Regions from separate parts of the Homo sapiens genome. Here region 1 is linked to region 2. The links come from fine-mapping of genetic effects on gene expression. A gene starts in region 2. The other region holds a variant in brackets. All regions are shown on one strand. Distances are from middle to middle. Region 1 has its middle 26 kb from the start of CILP. Region 2 holds the start of CLPX (caseinolytic mitochondrial matrix peptidase chaperone subunit X).

Region 1 (15,724 bases), 55 kb before region 2:
TGTCTCCTGGGGCTAGGCAGCCAGGTCCAGAGGGGGACTTTCCATGAGCAGAGAGCCCAGGTCAGGGGAGGTTAGGAGGTGGGGTGGCGAGGAAGCCACAAAGCCCTCTCTGTGCCTCCCCCACAGGCTCTTCCTGAGCCTTGCAGCCACGAGGTGAGGTTCATGGGATTTGAAAGCCCTGCAGCAGAATTACTGAGGAGCAGCTGCCAGTTTGGGACAGGCTCTATAGCCTCCCCACTCCCCCAGGCCATCCCTGTGTCACCTCCTGGCCAGGGAATGGGGAGCAGTAAGACTCTAAATAGAGATGGGCAAGAATCTTCTTAGGGGTAGGCCTGGGCCTTTTCCTTCTTGTATCCCCCCAGCATCCTGGCCTGGCTTTGCAGTTGGCTTGTCAGTCATACAGACCAACCCCACAGAGTAAGTGGCCCACTCAACAGCTGCCTGACCTACTCCAGGCTGACCAAATCCTCAGACCAACCAACAGGCTCACAGGAGACTCACTACTTCTGTGATGTACAGCCTGATTAACCAATAGGCCATCCTGTTAGTCTACATATTCAACAAATAGTCATTGAACACTTAGTTTGTGCCAGATCTTGTGCTGGCTGCAGGGGATACAGCCATAAACAAGACAGACAAGATCCTTGCTCTTAAGGCACTGAAAGTAAGCCATATGGCTTGGCTGTGTCCCCACCTAAATCTCATCTTGAATTGTAATTCCCATAATTCCCATGTGTTGTGGGAGGGACCCGGTGGGAGATCATTGAGTCATGGGGGCGGGTCTTTCCCGTGCTGCTCTCATGACAGTGAATAAGTCTCACGAGATCTGATGGTTTTATAAAGGGGAGTTCTCTTGCACACACTCTCTTGCCTGCTGCCATGTAAGATGTGACTTTGCTCTTCCTTCATCTTCCGCCATGATTGTGAGGCCTCCAAGCCATGCGGAACTGTGAGTCCATTAAACCTCTTTCCTTTATAAATTACCCAGTCTTGGGTATGTCTTTATTAGCAGCATGAGAACAGACTAATATAGTAAGTAAACAATGATGGAGTGTGATCTGTATATTATATATTATATGAAGGAAGTAAATGAGATTATGTGGGAGATAGTATCCAGCAGGCCATCCCCTGGATATAACAAAAGTCAGGGAAGACCTTCCTGACACATTATCTGAGACCTGGAGATTGAGAATGAGAAACGACCATGCAAAGAGCCTGTGGAAGATCTTACCAGATGGAGAAAGGCAATGCCAAGGGCTTGAGGTGGGGAAGAGCTTGGCATACTCTTGGGATAGCCAGAAGACCCATATTACTGGAACATGGTGAGGGGAAGGCAGTAAGACCCTTAAGCAGAGAGGTGGGCAAGAAGCTTCTTGGGGGTTCTTGCCTAAGGGGAAGGCAGCATGTGGAAGGGCTGCAGAGGAGGGCAGGAGCCTACCAGACAGGAGACAGGGCCTTGGGAGTCACAATAAGGACTTAGGGAGGAGTGAGGGGAAGGCCCTGAGGGTTTACACAAAAGTGTGACACATATTCAAGAATAAATATGTAATGGAATTTATATAATAGTTAAAAACCTTCCCACAAAAAAAAATAAAATGAAACCCTCCAGGCCCAGATGCCTTCACTAGTGAACTCTACTAAACATTTAAGGAAGAAATAATACCAACTTGATATAAAATCTTCCAGAATATTGAAAAGGAGGGAATACTTCCCAACTTATTCTATGAGGCCAGCCTTACCCTGATACCAAAACCAGACAGAGATATTCCAAGAAGGCATGGCCACTCACGCCTGTAATCCCAGCACTTTGGGAGGTCAAGGAGGGTGGATCACTTGAGCTCAGGATTTCAAGGCCAGCCTGGGCAACATGGTGAAACCTTGTCCCTACAAAAAAGACAAAAATTAGCCAGGTATGGTGGTGCATACCTGTAGTCCCAGCTACTTGGGAGGCTGAGGCAGGAGGACCACTTGAGCCTGGGGAGGCGGAGGTTGCAGAGCTGAGATTGCGCCACTGCACTCCAGCCTGGGCAACAGAGCCAGACCTACTCTCTAAAAACAACAACAAAATCATACTTCATGGTTAAAGATTGAATGCTTTCACTCTAAGATTGAGAATGAGGCAAGAAATATCTGTTCTTACCACTTCTATTCAAGATTATACTGGGGGTCCTAGTCAATGCAATATAGGAAGAAAAATATAAACCATATAGTTTGGAAAGAAAAAAGTAAAACTGTCTTTATTTATAAATGACATATATATGGAAAATCTTAAGTAATCTAGGAAACCTAAAATGAGTAAATGAGGGACCAGGCGCAGTGGCTCACGCCTGTAATTCCAGCACTTTGGGAGGCTGAGGTGGGCGGATCACCTGAGGTCAGGAGTTCGAGACCAGCCTGGCCAGCATGGTGAAACCCTGTCTCTACTAAAAATACAAAAATTAGCCAGGAGTGGTGGCAGGCACCTGTAATCCCAGCTACTCAGGAGGCTGAGGCAGGAGAATCGCTTGAACCTGGGAGGCAGAGGTTGCAGTGAGCCAAGATCATGCCACTGCACTCCAGCCTGGCCAGCCGAGCAGGACTCCATCTCAAAAAATAAATAAATAAATAAATAAAATGAATAACTGAGGTTAGCAAAGTTGCAGGATACAAGATTAATATATGAAAACTAATTGTGTTTCTCTATATAAGCAAAAAACACTTGGAAATTGACATTATAAAAACAATCTATAATACCATCAGAACTCCAAAACAGGGATAAATCTGACAAAAGATGTGCAAGCAATTAAAGAAGATATAAATAAGTGGTGAGAGATACTGTGTTCATGGATCAGAAGACCTGATGTTTTCAAGATTACAATTTTCTGAAATTGGCATATAGATTCAAAATAATTCCTGTCAAAATTGCAGCAATCTTTTTTTTTTTGTAGTAAACAAGCTGATTCTAAATGTATGTGGAAATGCAAAGGACCTTGAATAGCCATAACAATTTTTTAAAGTATTATGCAATTAGATTACTGGCCCTACCTGATTTCAAGACTACAGACAGAGCTACAATAATCAAGACAGTGTGGTATTGATGTAAAGATAAACATATAGATCACTGAAAAAGAAAAGGCCATCCAGAAATAGAGATATACACATATTATCAATTGATTTTTTATGAAGGTGACAAAGTACCTTTGGGGAAAAGATAGTATTTTCAACAAATGGTGCTAGAACAACTGGATATCTCATGGCAAACAAAATGAACCTCTATCCTTACTTCACACCATACACAAAAATTAATCCAAGTGGGCCACAAATCTAATTACAAGAGCAAAAACTATACAACTTCTAGAAGAAGACGTAGGGGAAAATCTTTATAACCTTAGGTTGGGCAAAACACTAATAATCAGTGAAAAGGTTTATAAACTTCATTAAAATTTAAAACTTTTGCTCTCTAATGATACCACTAGAAAAACGAAAAGACAACTGTCGGTGGGAGAAAATATTTGCAAAACATATATCCAACAAAGGACTTGTATCTAGAATATATTTTTTAAAAACTTCCTTATATACTTAGAATATATGAAGAATAAATGATTTGTATCTAGAATACATAAAAATATATACACTCAATATAAAAAACTAATGTAAAAAAATGAACAAAAATTTTCAACGGACACTTTGCTGAAGAAGATACACAAATTGCAAATAAGCACATGAAAGGATCCTCTTTGGTTATAAGAAATGTAAACTAAAACATAGTGAAATACCACTGCACACCCACTAAAAAAGCGAAAATTAAAAGACTGACCATATGAAGTGTTGGCAAGGATGTGAAACAACTATAACCAGTTCCACACTAGCGGTAGGAATGTATAAGCACTTTAGAAAACTGGCCGGGCATGGTGGTTCATGCTTGTAATCCCAGCACTTTGGGAGGCCAAGGTGGGCGGATCACCTGAGGTCAGGAGTTCGAGACCAGCCTGGCCAACATGGTGAAACCCCGTCTCTACTAAAAACACAAAAATTAGCTGGGTGTGGTGGCACACGCCTGTAACCCCAGCTACTTGGGAGGCTGAGGCAGAAGAATCACTTGAACCTGGAAGGCAGAGGTTGCAGTGAGCTGAGATCATGCCACCACTGCACTTCAGCCTAGGCAACAGAGTGAGACTCCATCTCAAAAAAAAAAAAAAAAGTTTGGACAGGCATGATGGCTCATACCTGTAATCCCAATACTTTGGGAGGCTGAGGGGGGCAGATCACTTGAGGTCAGGAGTTCAAGACCAGCCTGGCCAACATGGCAAAACCCCACCTCTACTAAAAAAATACAAAAAATTATCCAGGTTTGGTGGTGTGCACCTGCAGTCCCAGCTACTTGGGAGGCTGAGGCACGAGAATTGCTTGAACACAGGAGGCGGAAGTTGCAGTGAGCCGAGATTGCACCACTGCACTCCAGCCTAGGCAACAGAGTGAGACTCTGTCTCAAAACAATAAAAATAGAAACAGTTTTGCAATTTCTCAAAAAGTTAAACATACACCTACCACATGATCCAGTCACTTCTCTCCTAGGTATTTACCCAAGAAAAACGACAGCAGAAGCTCATACAAAGACCTATACATGAATGGTTACAGCAGCCTTGCATATAATAGCTAAAAACTGGACAGCCCAAATGTTCATCATCAAGTGAATGGGTAAAAAATTGTGGTATATTCATACAATGGAATACTTATTACTCAGCAATAAAAAAAATACTGATACAATGAACATGGATGAATTTCAAAATTATTAAGCCATATAAAAAAGAGTATATAGGCCAGGCACAGCAGCTTGCGCCTGTACTTTCAGCACTTTCAGAGGCTGAGGTGGGCGATTGATTGAGTTCAGGAGTTTGAGACCAGCCTGGGCAACATGGTGAAACCCCATTCTACAAAAAAATTGGCCGGGCGTTGTGGCTCACGCCTGTAATCCCAACACACACACACACACACACACACACACACACACACACACTAGCCCCCCCCACCACACACACACACACTAGCCAGGCGTGGTGGCGGGCGCCAAGCTACTTGAGAGGCTGAGGCAGCAGAATGGCGTGAACCCGGGAGGTGGAGCTTGCAGTGAGCCGAGCCACTGCTCTCCAGCCTGGGCGACAGAGCGAGACTCTGTCTCAAAACAAAAAAAAGAAAAGAAAAAAAACATTAGCCGAGCATGTCGTGGTTCATGCCTGTAGTCCCAGCTACTTGGGAGGCAGATGTGGGAGGATTGCTTGAGCCCAGGAGGTCAAGGCTGCAGTTGCAGTGAGCCGTGATCGCGCCATTGCACGCCAGCCTGGGTGACGGAGTGAGACCCTGTATTTAAAAAAAAAAAAAAAAAAAGGTCAGACGCGGTGGCTCACGCCTGTAATCCGAAAACTTTGGGAGGCCGAGGTGAGCGGATCATGAAGTCAGGAGATCGAGACCATCCTAGTTAACGCAGTGAAACCCTGTCTCTACTAAAAATACAAAAAATTAGCCAGGCGTGGTGGAAGGTGCCTGTAGTCCCAGCTACTCGGGAGGCTGAGGCAGGAGAATGGCGTGAACCTGGGAGGCGGAGCTTGCAGTGAGGGGAGATCGCGCCACTACACTCCAGCCTGGGCGACAGAGCAAGACTCTGCCTCAAAAAAAAAAAAAAAGAAAAAATTACATACTATTTTCTATCACATAAAATTCAGAAGATGTAAACTAGTTGGTAATGGCAGAAAGCATATCAGTCATTGCCTAGGAATGGGAGGTGGGGAAGGGAAGTTGGATTTCAAAGGAGCACGAGAAAACTTTTGGAGGTCATAGGTATAGTTCTTTTTCATTTTTTCTTTCTTTTCTTTTTTTTTTCTTTTCTCTCTTTTTTTTTTTTTTTTTTTTTTTTTTTTTAGGCAAAGTCTTGCTCTGTTGCCAGGCTAGCGTGCAGTGGTGGGATCTCAGCTCACTGCAACTTCTGCCTCCCAGGTCCAAGTGAATCTCCTGCCTCAGCCTCTTGAGTAGCTGGGACTACAGGCGCACACCACCACACCCGGCTAATTTTTGTATTTTTAGTAGAGACCGCAGTTTCACCATGTTGGCCAGGATGGTCTCGATCTCTTGACCTCGTGATCCGCCCACCTCAGCCTTCCAAAGTGCTAGGATTACAGGCATGAGCCACCGCACCCAGCCTTCCTTTTTTTCTTTGAGTCGGGATCCCACTCTGTCACCCAGGCTGCTGTGCAGTAGTGCAATCACAGTTCACTGCAGCCTCAAACTCCCAGGCTCAGAGAATCCTCCTGCCTCAGCCTCCCAAGTAGCTGGGACTACAGGCACATGCCATCATACCTGGCTAATTGGTTTTTATTTTTTGTAGAAATAGGGTCTCACTATGTTGCCTAGGCTGGTCTCAAACTCATGGCCTTAAGCAGTGCTCCTGCCTCTGCCTCCTGAGTTGCTTGGATTACAGGTGTGAGCCACTGCACATAGATATGGTTGTTATCTTTATTATACTGATGCTTTCATGGGTATATGTCAAAACTTAGCAAATTGTAAGCTTGAAGTGTGCAATTAATTGCATGTCAACTATACCTCAATAAAGGTATTCAAAAAACTGCAACCTGATCTAATTTGTTTCTTAAAAAATCACCCTGGCTGCTGTAAGAAGGGATGGAGGGGGATGAGAGTCGACATGGGAGTCATCAGGCAGCTGGCACAGTCACCTGAGTGAGAGATGCTGCGGCTGCAGTGATGGCAGTGCGGAGTGGAATGGACAGATTTGAGAGAGATTATAAGACCTAAACAACAAGACAAGACTTGCTAGCAGTTTGGATAAACTGCATGAGGGAAATGGAGAAATCCAGGATAGCTATCACATTTCCAACTGGAGCATGGAGTGACTGGGGCAGCCTGGGCCAGGGACAGATGTGGTGGTGAGCGTGGAACAAGAGTTCTCTTTTCATCTACCTCTGGGGATGCCTGGGCTCCAGGAGAAGGGTCTGGATGGAGATAAAATTTGAGGATATTAGCAAATAAATGTTTTTTTTTCTTTTGAGGCAGAGTTTTTGCTCTTGTTGCCCAGGCTAGAGCGCAGTGGCATGATCTCAGCTCACTGCAAACTCTGCCTCCCGGGTTCAAGCAATTCTCCTGCCTCAGTCTCCCAAGTAGCTGGGATTACAGGCCCCACCATGCCCTGATAAATTTTTTGTATTTTTAGTAGAGGCAGGGTTTCACCATGTTGGCCAGGCTGGTCTCAAACTCCGGACCTCAGGTGATCCACCTGCCTCGGCCTCCCAAAGTGCTGGGATTACAGGCGTGAGCCACTGCGTCCAGCCAATAAATGAATGGTATTTTAAAGCCAAGTGAATGGATGAGATCATGTAGGGACAGAGAATAGAGAAAAAAGTAGTATGAGAACTGAGCCCGGGGCACCCCAACATTTAGAGGTCTCCTGAAGGAGAGGGAGCCTGTACAGCTCATCAGGAAGGAGCAGCTTGAGAAGTACCCAA[C/T]TGCATTAATTTCCTGTGGCTGCTGTAACAAATTACCACAGACTGGGCAGCTTAGAACAACCAGAGATTTATTCTCTTACAGTTCTGGAGGCCAGAAGTTCAAGATCAGACCACTGGGCCAAAATCAAGGTGTTGGCAGGGCTGTACTCCCTCTGGAGGCTCTAGGGGAGATGTTGTTCTTTGACTCTTCCAGCTCTGGCAGCTGTTGGCCTTCCTTGACTTATAGCCACATCACTCCAATCTCCCTCTCTGTGGTCACACTACTTCCTCCTCTTCTGTTCTAATCAAATCTCCCTGTGCCTCACTCCTTATAAGACCCTAAGGACACATAGAATTTAGGGTCCACCCAGATAATCCAGGATGTCCTCCTCTTCTCAAAATCCTTAATTAATTACATCCATGAAGACCCTTTTTTCCAAATTTGGTTACATTCACAGGTTCTGGGAATTAGGATGTAGACACATCTTTTGGGACCACCTCTTAATCCATTACACCCACTGACTGACAAATAAGGGGTGACTCACCGAGTGATGCAAAATGGCAGGACTTCCTGTGTCTGGGAGGAGGGACTGAGTAGGTTAAGTGTAGGGTGCTCAGCCTGAAATCTCAGGCAAGGAGGTATAGGGCCAAGGCTGCAGCTGGCTTCAGCCTGTGTGGGAGAGTCTCATGGGGAGGGGAGGAACTGCAGATAGGAGGTTCCCAGCCCTCCCAGGCCTGACTCAGCGTCTGGCTGGGGCCATCTACACAGCAGCCAAAGTGATCTTTAAGTTGTAAATGTGTTCATATCACTCTCCAGTATGTGACCCTTCAACAGCTTTCCACACCTTTTTTCTTTTTTTTTTCTTTTTTTTTTTTTTTGAGACAGAGTCTTGCTCTGTCGCCCAGGCTAGAGTGCAGTGGTGCAATCTCGGCTCACTGCAACCTCTGCCTCCAGGGTTCAAGTGATTCTCCTGCCTCAGCCTCCCGAGTAGCTGGGACTACAGGTGCCCGCCACCACATCCAGCTAATTTTTTGTATTTTTAGTAGAGATGGGGTTTCACCATGTTGGCCAGGATGGTCTCGATCTCTTGACCTCGTGATCCGCCCACCTCGGCCTCTCAGAGTGCTGGGATTACAGGCATAAGCCACCGTGCCCAGCCAGCTTCCCACAACTTTTATGCGGAAGTCCAATACCATTACCCAGCCTACAGTGCCCAGGGGCCTGGCCCTAGCCCACCACTGCGGTCTTGTTTCATACTTCCTGTCCCTGCTAGCTGTCTCAAGACATACTAGCTGCCTCTCAGGCTGCTGTTTCTCCTACTCTAGGGCCTTGGCCTGGTATCCCCTCAGCCTGGAAGGCTCTTGTTCAACCCACTTCATTGAGTTAGCATCCAATGGTGTTCCAGATCTCAATCCAAATGTCTCTTCTGCAGAGAATTCTCTCTTGGTTCCCTGGTCCAGGTCATAAAAATGTGTCATATAAATTCTCATGGCTCCCTGGAATCATCTTCCATAGGACCATCAAAGTTCATAATTGTGTACATATTTGTAATGTTATTTTATTAATGTTTGGCTCTACCACTAGACTGTAAGCACCACAGGGTTTGTAGTATTCACCGTTCTATTCTAAGTGCCTTGTCCAGTGCTTGACAAACAGAAAGGAGATGTGGTGGGTTTAAAACATGTCTGCAGGGCTGGGCACAGTGGCTCACGCCTGTAATCCCAGCACTTTGGGTGGCCGAGGTGGGTGAATCACCTGAGGTCAGGAGTTTGAGACCAGCTTGGCCAACATGATGAAACCCTGTCTCTACTAAAAATACAAAAAAATAGCTGGGCATGGTGGCACATGCCTGTAATCCCAGCTACTTGGGAGGCTGAGGCAGAAGAATCGCTTGAACCTGAGAGGCGGAGGTTGCAGTGAGATCGTGCCACTGCACTCCAGCCTGGGCAACAGAGAGAGACTCAGTCTCAAAAAAAAAAAAAAAAAAACCATATCTGCAATTTTTTTTTTTTTTTAAGACAGGGTCTCACTCTGTCGCCCAGGCTGGAGTATAGTGACGCCATTATGAATCAAAGGTAAGTTGAGCGATTAAACAGCTCACTGCCCCCTCGACTCCAGGCTCAGGCGATCCTCCCACCTCAGCCTCCTGAGTAGCTGGGACTACAGGCATGTACCACCATGCCCGGCTAATTTTTTTTTTTTTTTTTTTTGTAGAGATAGGGTTTTACCATATTGCCTGGGCTGGTGTTGAACCCTGGGCTCAAACAAACTGCCCACCTCATCCTCCCAAAGTGCTGGGATTACAGATATGAGCCACCATGCCTGGCCGGCAAATTTTTTGACATCCTTTCCATCAAGAGGTAGAATCTAATTGACCTTCCTTTAAATATGGGCTGGTCTAATGACTTGTATCTAATTAACAGAATGTGACAGAAATGCTGTGTGACATCCGTGGCTAGGTTCTAAAAGGTAATGTGGCTTCCTCCTGACTCATTCTCTTTTAATTTTTATTTTATTTTATTTTTTATTAATTTTTTTTGGGGGGGACGGAGTCTCTTTCTGTCGCCCAGGCTGAAGTGCAGTGGCGCGATCTCGGCTCACTGCAAGCTCCGCCTCCCAGGTTCATGCCATTCTCCTGCCTCAGCCTCCCAAGTAGCTGGGACTACAGGCGCCCACCACTACGCCCGGCTAATTTTTTTTTTTAAATATACTTTAAGTTCTAGGGTACGTTTGCACAACGTGCAGTTTTGTTACATATGTATACATGTGCCATGTTGGTGTGCTGCACCCATTAACTGGTCATTTACATGAAGTATATCTCTTAATGCTATCCCTCTCCCCCACCCCTTTTTTTTGTATTTTTAGTAGAGACGGGGTTTCACCATATTAGCCAGGATGGTCTTGATCTCCTGACCTCATGATCCACCCGCCTCAGCCTCCCAAAGTGCTGGGATTACAGGCGTGAGCCACTGTGCCCGGCCCCTTTTTAAATTTTTTTAAATCTCTTTTTGGATGCTCCCTTTCAGGACCCACCTGCCATGCTGTGAGGACACCCAGGCCACATAGAGAGAGTGAGGCCACATGTAGGTTTTACAGCCAGAAGCCCCACTGAAAACCAAACCTGCAACCAGCATCAACTGCCAAACATGTACTGAAGAGGCTGAGATGATTCCAGCACTTGTGGATGACTGCAACCACATGAGAGACCCAGAGCAAGAGCTACCTAGCTGAGCCCAGTTACTCCCAGAATCATGAGAGAACTATGTAATTGATTGTTATTACTATATAAGCCACTAAGTTTACATATGATATGTTATGCAGCAGTAGACAGCTGGAACAGGAGCCAATAAACACCGAATGAATAAATGTGGATAGGTCTGGTTGAATGAACATTGCGTGTGTTTCAGCTTTGTGAAAGGTTTAACTGACAACTCTCAGCTTCTCCCCCAAGAGGTCTTGGAGATTCTGGAAGCCCCAGTTCAGAAACTCAAGCTCACCCAAGGAGAGAATCCCGGAAACTCTCAGCTCAGGACAGGAAACATGGAGAGGCTGTCAAAAGTTAGCTCTGAGCCTGATGCAGTGGCTCACACCTACAGGTAATCTCAGTGCTTTGGAGGCAGACATGGGAGGATCTCTTAAGGCCAGGAGTTCAAGACCAACCTGGGCAACATTCTTATTCTTGGGCCCATGGATAGTTTCAGGGGAGTAAAAACATACATTTTATCTGTGTGTATGTGCATTTTCCCGAGGAGAAGTTATCCAAGCTCTGTTATCAGATTCTCGAGTCTGTGTCCAAAAAATGTTAAGAACTACTGATCTAGTCCAACTATCTCAATATCTACGTTAAGATACTAAGATATTTTATGGTACTAAAGTGGACTAAGTACCCTGAATAAACTTCTGAAAACAATTATGGATAAAAGAAAAAAAATTTTTTTACTGCACTGATGAGTTGGCAAGAAAGTAAGGAATACTCAGGCCAAAAAAGTCACGAATTCAAAGGCAAGTTGCGCAACGAAACTGACTTTTGCCTTTTGGACATTTTTATTTTATTTTTATTTTTTATTGTCTAACCTATTTGCAATTTAAATTTTTTTTTTTTTTTTTAATTTTTGTGATATAGTCTTGCTCTGTCACCCAGGCTGGAGTGCAGTGGCATAGTCCCGGCTCACTGCAACCTCCACCTCCAAGGCTCAAGGGATTCTCGTGCCTCAGCCACCTGAGTAGCTGGGACTACAGGCGCATGCCAGCCTGTCCCACTAATTTTTGTATTTTTAGTAGAGATGGGTTTTTTCCATGTTGGCCAGGTTGGTCTCGAACTGGCCTCAAGTGATCTGCCTGCCCTGGCCTCCCAAAGTACTGGGATTACAGGCATGAGCCACCGTGCCCGGCTTCTCTTAACAAGTTATTTTTTGTTTTTGTTTGTTTGTTTTGGTTTTGTTTTTTTTGAGACGGAGTCTCGATCTGTCACCCAGGCTGGAGAGCAGTGGCGCGATCTTGGCTCACTGCAAGCTCCGCCTCCTGGGTTGACACCATTCTCCTGCCTCAGCCTCCCTAGCAGCTGGGACTACAGGCGCCCGGCTAATTTTTTTGTATTTTTAGTAGAGACGGGGTTTCACCATGTTAGCCAGGATGGTCTCAATCTCCTGACCTGGTGATCCGCCCACCTCGGCCTCCCAAAGTGCTGGGAATACAGGCGTGAGCCACCGCACCTGGTCAACAGGTTTTTAAGTGTACAGTTCAGTATTAACTATAAGCACAATACTGTACAGCAACTCTCTAGAACTTATTCATCTTGCGTGACTGAAACGACATCATTTTAATTTTTTAAAATTTTAAACTTTTTAATTTTTTATTTTTTGAGACAAGGTTTTGCTCTGTTGCCCAGGCTGGAGTGCAGTGGCACCACCATGCTCAACTGTTTTTTTTGTTTGTTTTGTTTTGTTTTGTTTTTTGTAGAGATGGGGCTCTCACTATGTTGGCTAGGGTGGTCTTGAACTTGTGGTTCTCACGCGATCCTCCCTCCTCAGCCTTCCAAAGTGCTGTAATTACAGGTGTGACCCACTGCACCCAGCCCATTTTTTATTTATTTATTTGTTTTTTCTTTTTGTGGAGAATGGGGTCTTGCTATGTTGTCCAGGCAGTTCTTGAACTCTTGGGCTCAAGCTAACCTTCTGCCTCTGCCTCCCTAAGTGTAGGGATTATAGGTGTGAGCCACTGAGCCTGGTCCGGTGAGTAATTTTTAACTCAGTAAACTTGAACTTGAATTTTCATGGTCTCATGGGAGTGAGTGATTAGAGAGAACCAGTGGTGTGCTAGTAACTGGCTCTCCAACAAAACAAAGCACTGTTTTGTGTACAGTTCAGTATTAACTATAAGCACAATGTTGTACACACATTTTTTAGTGTTTCAGTTTTTGTTGATTTCCATTAGGTAAATGTTCCCACCATAGATTTCAAGCCGTCAGTGGTACTAAGAACTGACACGAAAAATATTTGGTTCTTGTGAGCTGATAGGAGCAAACTCCAATACACACTACTGAGAGAAACTCAGGGCTCCTTTAAGGTGGGAAGTCTAAAAAACCTAAAATTGGGACTTCAGTGAATGTGTGAGCTAGATATAAACACCACTACCTCCCAACAGACTGAAAAGAAAAATGCCTATCTTAATTTCCCTATTCTTAAGAGAAAAATACCACTCCCAAAGTGCTGGGATTACCAGTGTTGAGCCACCATGCCCATCCCCCTTGCCCTCTTTTGCTATGTGCTTTAGGAGGTAGGTGACGGTGTAGTCTAAACTGGCACAGCAGCTGGAGGACACAACTGTAGGTACAAACAATAAGCAAGAATTCATTGGCACTAAAAATTTTTAAAAAGAATTATAAAATCAGTGAAAAGATATCTTAAAAGTAAGAAAAAACAATGACATGATACAAACAAAAACTGTATTTGCCACCAGCAGGCAGAAATAAAAAGTGATCCTAGATGGAAAAAATGAGAGACAAGAAGGAATATGGAACAAAGAAAATGGTACATGTGTGGGTAAGTCTAAACAAATGTTGTATTAACATTAATAACAATGTCTTATGGGCTTAAAAACACAGGCCAAGCATGGCGGCTCACACCCGTAATTGCAGCACTTTGGGAGGCCGAGATGGGCAGATCACTTGAGGTCAGGAGTTTGAGACCAGCCTGGCCAACGTGGTGAAACTCCGTCTCTACTAAAAATACAAGTATTAGCTGGGAGTGGTGGTGCGCCTGTAGTCCCAGCTACTCTGGAGGGCGAGGCACAAGAATCTCTTGAACTGGGGAGGCAGAAGTTGCAGTGAGCCAAGATCGTGACCCTGCACTTTAGCCTGGGTGACTCAGAGCGAAACTCTCAAAAAAAAAAAAAAGGTATAATTTGCAAACTATGTAAGGAGAAAAATGAAATAAAGAATAATTAAGAAAGCCAAAAAGAATAGAAAAGGAAACCTTAGAAAAGGTGGGGAAAATACCAAACAATAGGATATACGTAAATAAATAACGTGTGTGCGCACACATGCACATATCAGTATATTAATAAATGTAAATGGACTCAATGCCTCAGTTAAAAGACAAAGATTGCTAGACTAGACAAAGCAAATGAACCCAGTTATAAGCTGTTCACAAGAGGCATATCTAGGCCGGGCATGGTGGCTCACGCCTGTAATCCCAGCAGTTTGGGAGGCTGAGGCAGGGAGATCACCTGATGTCAGGAGTTCGAGACTGGCCTGGCCAACATGGTGAAACCCCATCTCTACAAAAATGTAAAAACTAGCCAGGCATGATGGCAGGTGCCTGTAATTCCAGTTACTCCGGAGGCTGAGGCAGGAGAATCACTTGACCCTGGGAGGCGGAGGTTGCAGTGAGCTGAGATCGCACCACTGCACTCCAGCCCAGGTGACAGAGCAAGACTCCATCCATCAAAAAAAAAAAAAAAAAAAAAAAAAGGGCATATCTAAATAAAACATAAGAATACAGAAAGGTTGAAAGTAAGAGGATGAAAAGAATCTGTCAAATACTAACCAAAGAAGGTTGATATGTCTGTATTAATTTTAGTCCACATAGACTTTAAGGCAAAAGCATTATGAGAGATAAAAGGGTCACTTCATAATGACAAAAGGTCCAAATCATCAGAAAGAACAATCCTACATTTATACCCACCTAATAACACAACTTAAATATATATAAAGCAAAAAAAAGGTAAGGAAAGTAAAATAAAAATAGGTAAATTCACAACACAGTGGAAGATGTTAGCACACTATTAAAGTAGTATAATTACTACTAATTTTTAGTAATTACTGATATATATATATATATATATTTTATTATTTTTTAAATTAGCTACTTGGGAGTCTAAGGTGGGAGGATCACTTGAGCCTGGGATTTTTGAGGCTGCAGTGAACTGGGTCATGCCACTGCACTCCAGCCTGGGCAACAGAGCAAGACTCCGCTCCAAAAAACAAAATCTAGCTGCTTTGTACTGTTCCTCTTCCCTATCCTGCTTCCCCTATTTCCTACTGGTTTCTCCCGGGACCATTTCTTTTTTTTTTTTTTTTTTTTTTTTGATACAGAGTCTCACTCTGTCACCCAGACTGGAGTGCAGTGGTTTGATCTCAGCTCACTGCAACTTCTGCCTCCTGAGTTCAAGTGATTCTCTTGCCTCAGCATCCTGAGTAACTGGGATTATAGGCACGAGCCACCATGCCCGGCTAATTTTGTGTATTTTTAGTAGAGATGGGCTTTTGCCATGTTGGCCAGGCTGGTATAGAACTCCCAACCTCAGGTGATCCGCCCGCCTTGGCCTCCCAAAGTGCTGAGATTACAGGCGTGAGCCACCATGCCTGGCCTGTTTTTCTTATTAAAATATGGAATCCTTCACAAATTTGTATGTCATCCTTGTGCAGAGGCCATGCTAATCTTCTCTGTATCATTCCAGTTTTAGTATATGTGCTACCGAAGTGATCACTGCCATTCGTTTTTTTAAATTCAAATGATTATACCTCTTCCAGGAAGGCTTCCCTGAGAGCCATCCTCAGAATGATGCTCCAGAGGGGGCCCAGAACAGGTGCTCCACACTAACCCATGCATGTTATTGTCCCTACCTACATTTACCTTAGTGTTCTATAGTGACCATTCCATCTCCCCGACGATGGGGTAAGTTCCTCAAAGGTACTCTGTTCTTTTATTTTTTATTTTTTTTGAGACAGAGTTTTCCTCTTGTTGCCCAGGCT
Region 2 (13,534 bases):
CTGCCCAGGCTGGAGTGCAGTGGCATGATCTCGGCTCACTGCAACCTCCGCTTCCCAGGTTCAAGCGATTTTCCTGCCTCAGCTTCCTGAGTAGCTGGGACTACAGGCACACATCACTGTGCCCAGCTAATTTTTGTATTTTTAGAGACGGGGTTCACCAGGTTGGCCAGGCTGGTCTTGAACTCCTGACCTCGTGATCCGCCAGCCTCAGCCTCCAAAGTGCTGGGACTACAGGCCTGAGCCACCGCGCCCGGCTACAACCAAAGTAATTCTTAAGTAAAGGAAAGATGGTGGGTCACTTCCTTAATAGGAGGGCAGATTTTTATTCCTTGATGTGAGATGTTCCTGGGTAGGGGGTAGAGATTCTGCAGACCCCTAAAATCTCATCAGCTTTTGGAATAAGATATAGAGAAGTAATGGAAACCCATATGGTGATTTGGATTTAAGTCTGGGTTCTGCTGTGACCTTGGGCAAGTCACTTAAACTCTCTGTGTCTTGATTTTCTCAGCTTCAAAACTGGAATGCTGATAATAACAATATATCATTTGGTTGTTGTAATAATCAAATGAGAAAGTGGATGTGAAAACCCTTTGTAAGTTATAAAGTTCAATACGATGTGTTAATATTATCTTGAGTTCGCACCACCTACAGATGCAGGTCCTTATCTTTTAAAATACTGAGTTCCTCAATATTTATATTTATATCCTTCCAGGGATAATCAATGTCTGCTGATATGAAGGAGCAGGGTTTGGCCATGAAAAAAAAAGTCTTTATTCAGAGGATACAAAGATTCCCAAAAGAATGATGACTCTCTGAGAAGATGTGCCAGAATTTCTGGTGGAGGAGAGGAGAAGCGAGATTTTTTGTTGTTGTTGTTGAGATGGAGACTTGCTTTGTCACCCAGGCTGGAGTGCATTGTCACGATCTCAGCTCACTGCAACCTCTGCCTCCCAGGTTCAAGCGATTCTCCTGCCTTAGCCTCCCGAGTAGCTGGGATCACAGGCGTGCGCCACCACACCCGGCTAATTTTTGTATTTTTAGTAGAGACGGGGTTTCACCATGTTGGCCAGGCCAGTCTGGAACTCCTGACCTCAGGTGATCCACCTGCCTTGGCCTCCCAAAGTGCTGGGATTACAGGCGTGAGAAACTGCGCCTGGCCGAGAAGTGAGATTTTTATGTTTATCGAAAAGAGTCTTGGGTTAAAAAAGAAAAGCTTGAGAAATACAGTTTTAAAGCCAGAAGACTCCAGCTCTATTCTCTGTTTTTCACTTGTTATGTGACCCTGGTCAAGTATCTGCCTTTTCAATAGGCCTGTTTCCTCATCTAAAAAAATCAGGGTTAATATTGAGTGAGTTAAGACTCATGGACTCTAATTTATTAAAATATTTCTTATAGCAACTCATAATGCTGGGAGGTAAAATCAAGTATAAAAGAAAAAGAGGGCCTGCATGGTGGCTCACACCTGTAATCCCAACACTTTGGGAGGCCAAGGCAGGCGGATCATGAGGTCAATAGATCAAAACCATCCTGGCCAACATGGTGAAACCCCGTCTCTACTAAAAATACAAAAACTAGCTGGGCGTGGTGGTGTGCGCCTGTAGTCCCAGCTACTCAGGAGGCTGAGGTAGGAGAATCGCTTGAACCGAGGAGCCAGAGGTTACAGTGAGCCAGGATCGCACCACTGCGCTCCAGCCTGGCCACAGAGTGAGACTCCATCTCAAAAAAAAAAAAAAAAAAAAGACAAAAGAAAAAGTTTTACATAAAATGAAGACATAAAAAGTTATGTGCCTGACTGGGTGCAATGGCTCATGCCTGTAATCCCAGCACTTTGGGAGGCTGAGGCAGGCGGATCACTTGAGGTCAGGGGTTTGAAACTAACACGGCCAACATAGTGAAACTCTGCCTCTACTAAAAATACAAAAATTAACCGGGCATGGTGACGCATGCCTGTAATCCCAGCTACTCAGGAGGCTGAGGCAGGAGAATCACTTGAACCCAGGAGGCAGAGGTTGCAGTGAGCTGAGATGGTGCCACTGCACTTCAGCCTGGGTGACAGATGGAGACTCTGTCTCAAAAAAAAAGTTATGTGCCTTCAGCTATGTAGTTCGCAAAAAGTAAATAACTCAAGGAGTTAACTCCTCCAGTGTAAACTATTTGAGCTGGAAAACTGCACTTGACTTTCTTTTTAAAGCGTCATTAATCTGTCAGAAAACAGCTGAAAGTAGGTGTGATGTGGAAGGGCTGATGTGACCACAAGTATTTGCCATCACTTTCCTGGTGAAGGATCCATTTTCTCACAGGGATAATCTCAGATGGCTCTGGGTTTTTTTTTTTTTTTTTTGAGACGGAGTCTCGCTCTGTCGCCCAGGCTGGAGTGCAATGGCACGATATCGGCTCACTGCAACCTTCGCCTCCTGGGTTCAAGCAATTCTCCCACCTCAGCCTCCTGAGTAGCTGGGATTACAGGAGTACGCCACCACACCTACCTAATTTTTGTATTTTTAGTAGAGATGGGGTTTCACCATGTGGGTCAGGCTGGTCGCAAACTCCTGACCTCGTGATCCACCTGCCTCGGCCTCCCAAAGTGCTGGGATTACAGGTGTGAGCCACCACGCCCAGCCGGCTCTGTGCTTTTGAATTCATAACTTGAGAGGATGGCCTGATAGGAACCTGACCAGAGGTTATCTATGCAGTGCCATCCTTAATCACGGCCGGGTGCGGTGGCTCACGCCTGTAATCCCAGCACTTTGGGAGGGCGAGGCGAGAGGATCACTTGAGCCCAGGAGTTTGAGACCAGCCTGGGCAACATAGGGAGACCTCATCTTTACTAAATTAAAAAAAAGAAAGAAAGAAAAGAAAACCCTCAAGACTTTAAAGCACCCACGGACTAGCAACAGCTAGAAGCTTTATCACCACGAGGCCTGAAAGAACAAGGAGACGGAGCTGTTACCAACTAACAATTGCTGCTCAGGGAACTAACTGACAATACCAACTCCATGTTACAAGTGATGAAACTAAGGAGAATGAGAAGATAAGGAACACAGGATGTGGAATTCCGGGGGAAGAAATTTAGTGAATCTGAAGCATCCAGCGCCTACCAAGGCACTTTAGAGACTTCCCCCTGGAGGGTTAAGCCACCAGCCTCACCTTGACCTTCCCTGCCGCCCACTAAAAGTGACCGGAAGAGCTCGACTATGACGACTCGGGACTACAAGTCCCGGCATGCATCTCTCCGCGTCTATCGCAAAACCTTTCAACTTTAGGATAAAAGGGCTTTTGGCAACCTTGAGCGTCGGGACCTGTAGTCGCCCCAGTTGGGGCTAGACGCTTGCCGTAGGGAACTCATTGGCGCCCAGGGCACCACCCCCTCGCCTTCGCCTCACGTAGCTTCACCAGCTCGCAAACACGGCGCGTGCCCACGCCCTCCGCCCCCTCCCCGGGCCTAGGGCGCAGGCGCGCGCAAGCTCCCCGGGCCCAGTAGGCTGGGGGTGGGGGTAGAAGGAGAAGGAGGGGAAGGGAGGGGGGGGTTGGGTGTCTACTCTGGTGAATAGACGGCTGTGGGGCAGAGAAGCGTGAAGGCCTGGCTGCCGGGCAGGTGAACTCTCCACGGGGTCTAGGGCCCGCGAAAGGGTTCGGAACCGAGTCAGCGCGCCTTGCGGGCAGGATTCACGCCGCTGTGACCCGGAGGTCCTCAGGGGGCGAAGCCCCGGCCTAGGCCTCGCGGAGATGCCCAGCTGCGGTGCTTGTACTTGCGGCGCGGCGGCCGTCCGGCTCATCACCTCCTCACTCGCCTCCGCGCAGAGAGGTAACGAAATAGTGCCACTCCTGAGCCCTCAGCCTGTCGGGGGGGGGGTGGACTGGCCAATGGTTGGGGGCCCCGGGGAGGGCACGAGGCCTGCTGCACCCGGGGAGTGTGAGGGAATGCGCGGCGCTTCGCCCGGCACCCACCACTTTCCCCGTGGAATGGGGCTCTGCCAACCTCTGGAGCAGCCGTTGCTCAAATTGGAAGTAAACTCCTTCCCACGCGCCTGCCTGCACGCTTTCAGGCCTGCTGACTTTGGGGCCGGAATGCGGCCACTTTGTAGAAACCCTGAAAGGCACAAAATGCTCCTGTTATTAAAAAATGTCTCCAGATCCCACTCAGCCCTGCCGGGGACCGCCGCCTGCCATGGCTGCGGCTCTTCTTCCGCAGCCTGGCCGGGATCCCCCTCGGGCCCGTTGGGGGCTCCAGGAGGGGCTCGGCTGAGGATCTGTCCCTACTAGGGTCCCCCAGGACTCGGGGCACCCAGCTGGCCGTCCCGGACGCAAGCCGCGCGATACCCGAGATGTTACTATCACTGTGCGGCCCTGACACTGGGACATAAACAAGGTTCACAATACTTCCCGGCGTCAGGCAAGCCCCGGGGCCCGCAGGACAGCGGCGGGAGAGATGGGGAGAAGTCCCGCAGGAGTTGGTTCGGAAGTACTTGGGTGTTTCAGCAGTCCTTTGCTGGCTTTCCCAACTTGACCGGGAGGTAGTTTCCTAAGAGTGGCGCATGTTGTTTACCTTTTCTTTCTGTTTATCTGAAGCTGTGAAAGAATGGCGCCCCAGCCAAGAGAGTCTGGAAAATAAACTTTTTTTCTCTTCCTCAAATCTGTGGAAGTCAGACCACGAGGCTAGATCCTGTTATAATGACTGACTTCTAGACAAATTCGTTTTATTTTGGCTTATCGGTTTATGACCCTTGGATGGATTTTTAAAAAGGCCCCTTTTATCTAACTTCTAAGCCAATTATAAAATCCTTATTGTTTACTAAATATATCTTCCAGTTTCTTTACTACAGAAGGAAGGATTGAATGAGGTAACGTGGGCAGAAGCATTTTGTAAAATGATATATAAATGTAAGGGAGTAAATTTAATCCTAAATCGATGTTAAGCCTCAACCAGTAGATGTCCCGATTCCAGGAATTCGATTTGCAAACACTTTAAAGTGACATATTTTAATCCATTTATCTGATATATATTAATATTTGTCAAGGGTCCACTGTGTGTCAGGCCTTCTTTTAGTGCTGGAGGTAGAGTGGTGAATAAGTCCTCACCCTCATGTTTAAATCTAGTGGAGTAGACAAAGAATAATACAGTTTCCAGTGGGTGGATGAAGTATGTGTGTGTTCCCTTTGGTCAGGGACGGCTTCTTTGAAAGTGTTACTGATCTCTTGTAGCCAAGAGTCCGTGAACATTTTTGAATCATAGGAGATAGGCAGTTATTTTTTTTTCTTTTCAAAACGACTGTTTTCTTTCTTTTTCTTTTCTTTTCTCCTTCCTTCCTTCCTTCCTTTCCTTCCTTCCTGTCTTTCTTTCCTTTCTGTCTTTCTTTCCATCTACTATCTGTCTTTCTGTCTGTCTTATTTTCTTTCTTTTTTTTTTTTTTTTTTTTTTGAGACAGAGTCTCGCTCTGTCGCTCAGGCTGGAGTGCAGTGGCCAGATCTCAGTTTACTGCAAACTCCGCCTCCTGGGTTCACGCCATTCTCCTGCCTCAGCCTCCCGAGTAGCTGGGACTGCAGGCGCCCGCCACCACGCCTGGCTAATTTTTGTATTTTTAGTAGAGACGGGGTTTCACCGTGTTAGCCAGGATGGTCTCGATCTCCTGATCTTGTGATCCGTCCGCCTCGGCCTCCCAAAGTGCTGGGATTACAGGCGTGAGCCACCGCGCCTGGCCTCTTTTTGTGTGTCTGTCTTGATGGAATCTGCTAAGTTGCCCGGGCTGGAGTGCAGTAGCGCGATCTCGGCTCACTGCAACCTCCGTCTCCTGGGTTCAAGCAATTCTTCTGCCTCAGCCTCCTGAGTAAGCTGGGGTTACAGGCGCGCGCCACCACGCCCCACTAATTTTTATATTTTTAGTAGAGACGGGATTTTGCCATGTTCGTCAGGCTGGACTCCAACTCCTGGACCCCAGGAGATCACCCGCCTTGGCCTCCCAAAGTGCTAGGATTACAGGCTTGAGCCACCGCACCCGGACTAGTATTTCTTTTTAAAAACAGTTGTTCTGAAATTTAGAAAGCTTTGTCTGTATGATAAAGTTCTGTAAATAGTGAAACTTAAATTGTCTTTTCTGGTTGCTGCCAGGTAATCTGGTGAAATATACTTTACAGAAACACTTCTCTTTTTTGGCTTTCAGAGCTTCACCTGGGGTTTACAGGCCTCCAAAGGGTCCTTGAATAGAATTCAGAGATTCTGTGAACTTTATTTTCACTAAGCTCTAACTGAAACACAACGTTTCCTTGGCCTATGAATGTGGGCAACACATCCACAGTAGTCTTAGAAGTGTCTGTGGATTTGTCATCAATCAAAATCAGAAATATTTTCATATCACATTATAGTTGCTGATATTTCAGAATATTGTCCATACTTTTTGCTACTTTGAAATCATAGTAATTATTTAAAAAGCTGTTAGATCTTATTTAATTTTGCTTGTTAATAAAGAGGCATATTTTAAAAATTTTTTGATAACTACTTCATTATAATTTGTTTCCTTTGTTATGTATTTTATTTTATACATTTAAAAATATTATTCTGAGAAGATCTATTCAGAGGCTTCACCAGACTGCTTAAGGGGTTCATGGCACAAAAAGTGTTAGAAATCCCAATTACTTTGCTACAGAGCTTTATCATTTTTATGAGGATTTTATGATTGGTGAATGGTCATTTTGATTGATTGCATCTGTCACTCTCCCTCAATTACTTTTTCTTTTTCTTTCTTTCTTTCTTTTTTTTTTTTTTTGAGACGGAGACTCTGTTGCTTAAGCTGGAGTGCAGTGGTGCCATCTCGGTTCACTGCAACCTCTGCTTCCTGGGTTCAAGCGATTCTTCTGCCTCAGCATCCCGGGTAGCTGAGACTACAGGCGCGTGTCACCATGCCCAGCTAATTTTTTGTATTTTTAGTAGAGATGGGGTTGCACCGTATTAGCCAGGATGGTCTCGATCTCCTGACCTTATGATCTGCCCCCCTGGGCCTCCCAAAGTGCTGGGATTACTGGCATGAGTCACTGCACCTGGCCCCCTCAATTACTTTTTCTAAGCCTACTTTTGGGATTGATACTATCTTTATTTATTTATTTATTTATTTATTTATTTATTTATTTATTTATTTTGCGACAGAGCCTCGCTCCGTTGCACAGGCTGGAGTACAGTGGCGCAATCTCGGCTCACTGCAACCTCTGCCTCGTTCAAGTGATTCCCCTGCCTCAGCTTCCCAAGTAGCTGGGATTACAGGCACCTGTCACCACGCCTGGCTACTTTTTGTATCTTTAGTAGAGACAGGGTTTCACCATGTTGGCCAGGCTGGTCTTAAACTCCTAACCTCAAGTGATCCACCCACCTCAACCTCCCAAAGTGCTGGGATTACAGGCGTGAGCCATCACACCTGGCTCCTTCAATTTTTTTATTGTGGTAAGATACATATAAAATTTACAAGACTTAACTATTTTTAGTGTATAGTTCGGTAGTATTAAGTACATTGATACTGTGCAACCATTGCCATCATCTTGTGAAACTGAAGCTCTGTACCCATTACAACAATAACTCTCCATTTTCCCCAACCCCCAGGAACCGCCATTCTACTCACTGACTCTATGATTTTGCCTTCTAAGTACCACGTGTAAGTGGAATAACACAATTTTTTAAAGAACTTTTTTTTTTTTTGAGACAGAGTCTCCCTCTGTTGCCCAGGCTGGAGTGCAGTGGCATGATCTTGGCTCACTGCAACCTCTGCCTCCTGGGTTCAAGCAATTCGCCTGCCTCAGCCTCCTGAGTAGCTGGGATTACAGACGCCTGCTAGCACACCCAGCTAATTTTTGTATTTTTAGTAGAGACAGGGTTTCACCACGTTGGCCAGGCTGGTCTCGAACCCTGGGATTACAGGCATGAGCCACCGCGCCTGACCTTAAAGAACATTTGAAGTTTGTTTCCATTGTTACAGATTTTTTTTTTTTTTTTTGAGATGGAGTCTCGCTATGTCACCCAGGCTGGAGTGCGGTGGCACGACTTCAGTTCGCTGCAAACTTCGCCTCCCGGGTTCAAGCGATTTTCCTGCCTCAGCCTCCCGAGTAGCTGGGATTAAAGGCGCCCACCACCATGCGTGGCCAATTTTTTTTTATTTTTAGTAGAGACGGGGTTTCACCATGTTGGCCAGGCTGGTTTTGAACTCCTGACCTCTAGTGATCCACCCGCCTAGGCCTCCCAAAATGCTAGGATTACAGGGGTGAGCCACCACACCCGGCCCAGATAGTATTCTTATATAATAACAGATGAGTTGCTGTCAGATGTTTATTCTCATTGGTAGAAATAATAAGAATATAGGGCATAAATGGCCTTTTTCAAAATCTTACAGGTGAGGCAGATGTTGAAGTCCATTCAAACTTTGAAAAAGTTATGACGTGGGTGATCTTGCCTTATTTCCAAAGGACACATACAGAAAGAAACACCTTTATTTATTTAGAATCTTTCAGAGGCCCAGACCTGCTGGCCTGTTTTTGAAAGGACTTTGCCTCCGTTGGTGTCATTTTTTTTCTCTCAGTTTATACTACTGTGAAAATGATAGCTTTTTTTCAACCTCCTTTATGCTCAAGGAATTTTTGTTTCCAGGGGATTTATTGAGGCATGTCTATATTTGATGTAGATTTCCTTTTATTTTCAGGTATTTCTGGTGGTCGCATTCATATGTCAGTTTTAGGAAGGCTTGGGACATTTGAAACTCAGATTCTGCAAAGAGCTCCTCTTAGATCCTTTACAGAAACACCAGCATACTTTGCCTCAAAAGATGGGATAAGTAAAGATGGTTCTGGAGATGGAAATAAGGTAATTATTTTATCTTATTGGCATCTGTACACATTGTGAGTTCCCTCCTTTAAAAAAATATAACAGTACTGTCTCTTACTGGCTTATATGTTTTCTGTAGGAAATATGAGATAGCTAAAATGATCTGAATAATTTTATGTAATTAGATGTTTCATTTTGAACCTTAAAATACTTTTATAAGCATTGCACATAGTAAGCAGTAATTAAAATTTCTTACACCCCAAAGTAGTAAAGAAGTGTCATTAAATGACAGTCAGTAGGATTGAATTAGGAATAGCCATCATTTCCTGCTTTCATATAACTCTTATAACCCATGGCAGTATAAACCTCACTTTATCCTCTACCTAAAAATTTCAGATTTGTGGTATAACTTAATGTTGGGCTACTCTGGTAGCCTAAAAATTTCATATTTCTGGTATAACTTTATGTTGTAGCTAGTATAACTTATGTTGGTAGTTGTATTGAGTCAGTGACTTAACAGTTTTTTTCATTACGTGAATTTGACTAACACTTGAGTTAATTTTATATGTTAGACAAAATGTGAGACACTTACATATCCATACTTAACAGTGACTCTGATGTGAGTAAAATTATTCCCATTTTAGAGATGAGAAAAGTTAGATCTAAGAATAGTCAGAGTCACTACCTACCATGATAATAACTCCTGATTCAATTTCATTGAAATGTAGTTTTTTACCCTTAGTAAATTTTCTAGTGCCTGAGTCATTGAATGAAAGCTGTTTATTATATATGTTGGCACATGTTATACAAAGGAGGACTGCAGATATATATGTATTTACTAGAACTGATTTGATTTTTGAAGTAAATAGATCTTCTGACACCAGTAATAGAATTATAAAATATACTAATAATTTCATCCTAGAAATATAGAAGATTATAAAATTAATTACAAACAGTATTGTTTACATTTAAGTTGGTTGCCTGAAACTAATAATTGACACTCTTCCTTTTTTCTCCTTCATAAACGTTAGAAATCAGCAAGTGAGGGAAGTAGTAAGAAATCAGGCTCTGGGAATTCTGGGAAAGGTGGAAACCAGCTGCGCTGTCCTAAATGTGGCGACTTGTGCACACATGTAGAGACCTTTGTATGTAAGTATTACATCTTCTACTGTTCTTTTTTCCCTACATTTTCTGTAAATTACTAAGTGTATAAAAATATGTAAATTATGTAAAATGTATAAATATAGGCCAGGTGCAAACGGCTTATGCCTATAATCCTAGCACTTTGGAAGGAGGAGATGGGAGAATCCCTTGAGCCTAGGAGTTCAAGACCTGCCTGGGCAACATGTTGAGACACCTGTCTTTCCAAAAAAAAAAAAAAAGCCAGGTATGGTGGTGCATACCTGTGGTCTTAGCTACTTCTTTTAAGAAGGTTGAGGCTGCAGTGAGCCATGGTCATGCCACTGTACCCCATCCTGGGTGACAGAGACCCTGTCTCAAAAAAAAGAAATATATATATATAAATTGTATTAAATGTGTAGAAATATGGATTATATGAAATAGATAAATGTATGTGACTTTGTATGTTATATAAATTATATGTAAATTGTATGAGCTTACCTGATTCTCTCTTATGTTCACTATATACTAGAAAATCTTCAGGACTGGTAATACTTTGCACTGTTGTGTAAGAGATAATTTAAGAAAAACATTTGCTTCTTTATTTTGCTTACTTGTGTTTATTTCAAATTAGATTTTGTGAATTTCTGGATGTGATCATTAGGCTATAGGAGAACCAAGACTTATTTATTCTGTATTTATTACTACTTTCTTCAAATACATATTGAATATCTCACATGGCTGGGAAGGCCAGTCATTCATATATTAAGGTAATTTCCCTTAGTACTTACCAAAGGAGGTAAGCCCTCAATTCCGGGAAGCATCTGATAATTATTAATGATTCAGACACTCAGAGAAGGAAGAAATCAGGGCTGGGCACAGTGACTCACACCTGTAATCCCAGCACTTTCAGAGGCTGAGGTAGGCAGAGTGCTTGAGCCCAGAAGTTCAAAACCAGCCTGAGCAACATGGCAAAACCCCATATGTATAAAAAAATAAAATTAGCTAGGCATGGTGGTGCATGGCTATAGTTCCAGCTACTTAGGGGCTGAGGTAGGAGGATCGCTTGAGCCTGGGAGGTGAGGCAGCAGCGAGCCAGCCATTGAATTCCAGCCTCGGCGACAAAGCAAGAACCTGTCTCAAAAAAAGAAAAAAAGAAGGAAAAAAATCATGTATCCTACTTTTGCTGTTAGTGTCAGTAACTCTCTGAAATGCAAAGATTCTACTACAGATATTTTCATTAATGAATCAAATAATCAAAAAACTCATTACTTAACATAATTTAGAGTTAATGGTAATGAATTGTACCACCATGTCAGCCTTCCTATACAATCCAATTGAAGAAAGCTTCAAGATTGTAAGACTTCAGTGTCTGATGGTTGGCTAGAGAGTATTCTCTATCTCCTAACCCTAATATTGAGACTTTGGTTACAATTTCACACTTACCATTAACCATAATTGGCCACCATATGAAAAGGTACTAGATGTAGTGTGTTTTTATGTACTGGAAAGACTTAAAGTAGCTCCATCCCATAGCTGGAATATTAGGGGTTCTGAACAAAATTTAATTTGGATCACAACATAAAATGAAAGTGGGCCAGGCGCTGTGGCTCACACCAGTAATCACAGGACTTTGGGAGGCCGAGGCGGGCTGATCACTTGAGGTCAGGAGCTTGAGACCAGCCTGCTCAATATGGTGAAACCCCATCTCTACTAAAAATACAAAAATTAGCCGGGCGTGGTGGCGTGCATCTGAAGTCCCAGCTGTTCGGGAGGCTGAGACAGGAGAATCTCTTGAACCTGGGAGGTGGAGGTCATGGTGAGCCAAAATCACACCACTGCACTTCTCCAGCCTGGGCGACAGAGTGAAACTCCATCTCAAAAAAAAAAGGTAGAACTGGATGATAAAACCTTCTAAACAAATTTGATGTGATATAATAAAATTATACAGAGGCTGAAAATTGTTCAATTTATAAGGTCAGTGTCTTATATTTTAATCAAGAAATTTTCCTCCTTTTTTTTTCTTCAAAGAAACATTTCAACCTTTATAGACCTAAAGAATAATTTGTTGCCAGGCGCGGTGGCTTACACCTGTAATCCCAGCACTATGGGAGGCTGAGGTAGGCAGATCACCAGAGGTGAGGCGTTCAAGACCAGCCTGGCCAACGTGGTGAAACCCCGTCTCTACTAAAAATACAAAATTAGCTGGGCGTGGTGGCGGGCACCTGTAATCCCAACTACTCAGGAAGCCGAGGCAGGAGAATTGCTTGAACCTAGGAAGCGGAGGCTGCAGTGAGCCGAGATCACACCACTGCACTCTAGCCTGGGAAACAAGAGTGAAACTCCGTCTCCAAAAAAAAAAAAAGAAAGAAAAAAAAGAAAAAAGAATAATTTCTTAGAGTAGAAAAGGAAAGAAACTAATATTTAATAAATGCCAACATATATAGTTTTATTCTTGCACCCTTAATTTTGCCAGAACAAAGAGTATTCTCCTTTTTATAAATAAACTGAGATTTAGCAAGTTTAAGTAACTCATTCAAGGTCACATAGCAGTGAAGATTTGCTATTCAGAAATTCCTATATCATACATTTCTACCATCTGGAGATACTTTAGGAGTAAACTAGCTCCTCTTGGGATTAAATTTATTTTCCTTCTATGCATTCTTTCCAAAACTTGCCAGGTTGTATTAGTCACTGAAGGTGACTGTTAAACTTAGAGATTCCCAAACTCCTTCCCTAGAGATTAAGATTCTGTAGATGTGGGATGGAGTCCTAGAATTTGTATGTTAGTAGTATATGTATATTATTAGTTAGACCAAGTGTGGAAACACTACTTTAGTGTAATCAATTCAAGGCTGAGGCCTGTTTGCTTTGAGAATTCTAATTGTGGGTGGTGATATGGGAGTAGAAAATGTAGAAGGAAAGAATGAAAAAAAGAGCACACACTTATGTGCAAAATTAATAGCAAATGTGTTGATTCAGACATCACTAGGCTCAGAAAATATGCAGATGATCATGACACTGTCCCTGTCCTCTAACTATTTGTAGGCCCTAGCAGTGCAGTGAGCCCCTCCTCCCTTAGTTTTGTGTACCCATAATAAAAGTCTTTTCAGAATGCATCCTTTTGAATCCTTCTGTGTCTGATCATTAAAAGTTGGGTCTTCATAGTCCTAAAGAGAGTTTTATTTGATCTCAGGTTACTAACAGGTTGAGCATCCGTAGTCTGAAAATCTGGAATTCAAAATGCTCTGAAATCCTTTTGAGTGCGTCATGACGCTTAAAGGAAATGCTCCATTGGAGCATTTCAGATTTCAGATTTCATGTAGGGGTGCTTAACCAGTGTATTTCTGTGAATATTCCAAAACGTGAAAACATTTGAACTCTGAAACACTTCTGGTCCCGTGCATTTTGGTTAAGGGATAACTCAGCCTGTTTTTTTGTTTGTTTTTTGTTTCTATTGTTTTTCTGAGGCAGAGTTTCACTGTTCTCACCCAGGCTGGAGTGCAGTGGCGCGATCTTGGCTCACTGCAACTTCTGCCACCTGGATTCAAGTGCCAGCCTCAGGTGCCTCAGCCGCAGCCTCCCAAGTAGCTGGGATTACAGGTGCCCACCACCATG

What was found. PIP is the estimated chance that this variant, and not a neighbour inherited with it, causes the effect.
Region 1: its variant is fine-mapped to the expression of CLPX in whole blood (INTERVAL, PIP 0.99).

Annotation. Positions count from the first base shown.
Region 1 is chr15:65,229,596-65,245,319 of GRCh38, reverse strand. It overlaps the pseudogene RNU6-686P and a transcript of PARP16 not described here. Among named protein-coding and RNA genes, the nearest start is that of CILP, 26 kb to the right of the region's middle. RefSeq lists enhancers at 4,551-5,051, 5,052-5,552. The variant C/T (reference allele first, on the strand shown) is at 7,491.
Region 2 is chr15:65,175,346-65,188,879 of GRCh38, reverse strand. CLPX (caseinolytic mitochondrial matrix peptidase chaperone subunit X) reads left to right here and starts at 3,538. Exons shown (of 14, transcript NM_006660.5): 1 at 3,538-3,805; 2 at 8,676-8,836; 3 at 9,829-9,946. The coding sequence starts at 3,727. RefSeq lists a silencer at 3,290-3,599 and an enhancer at 3,021-3,905.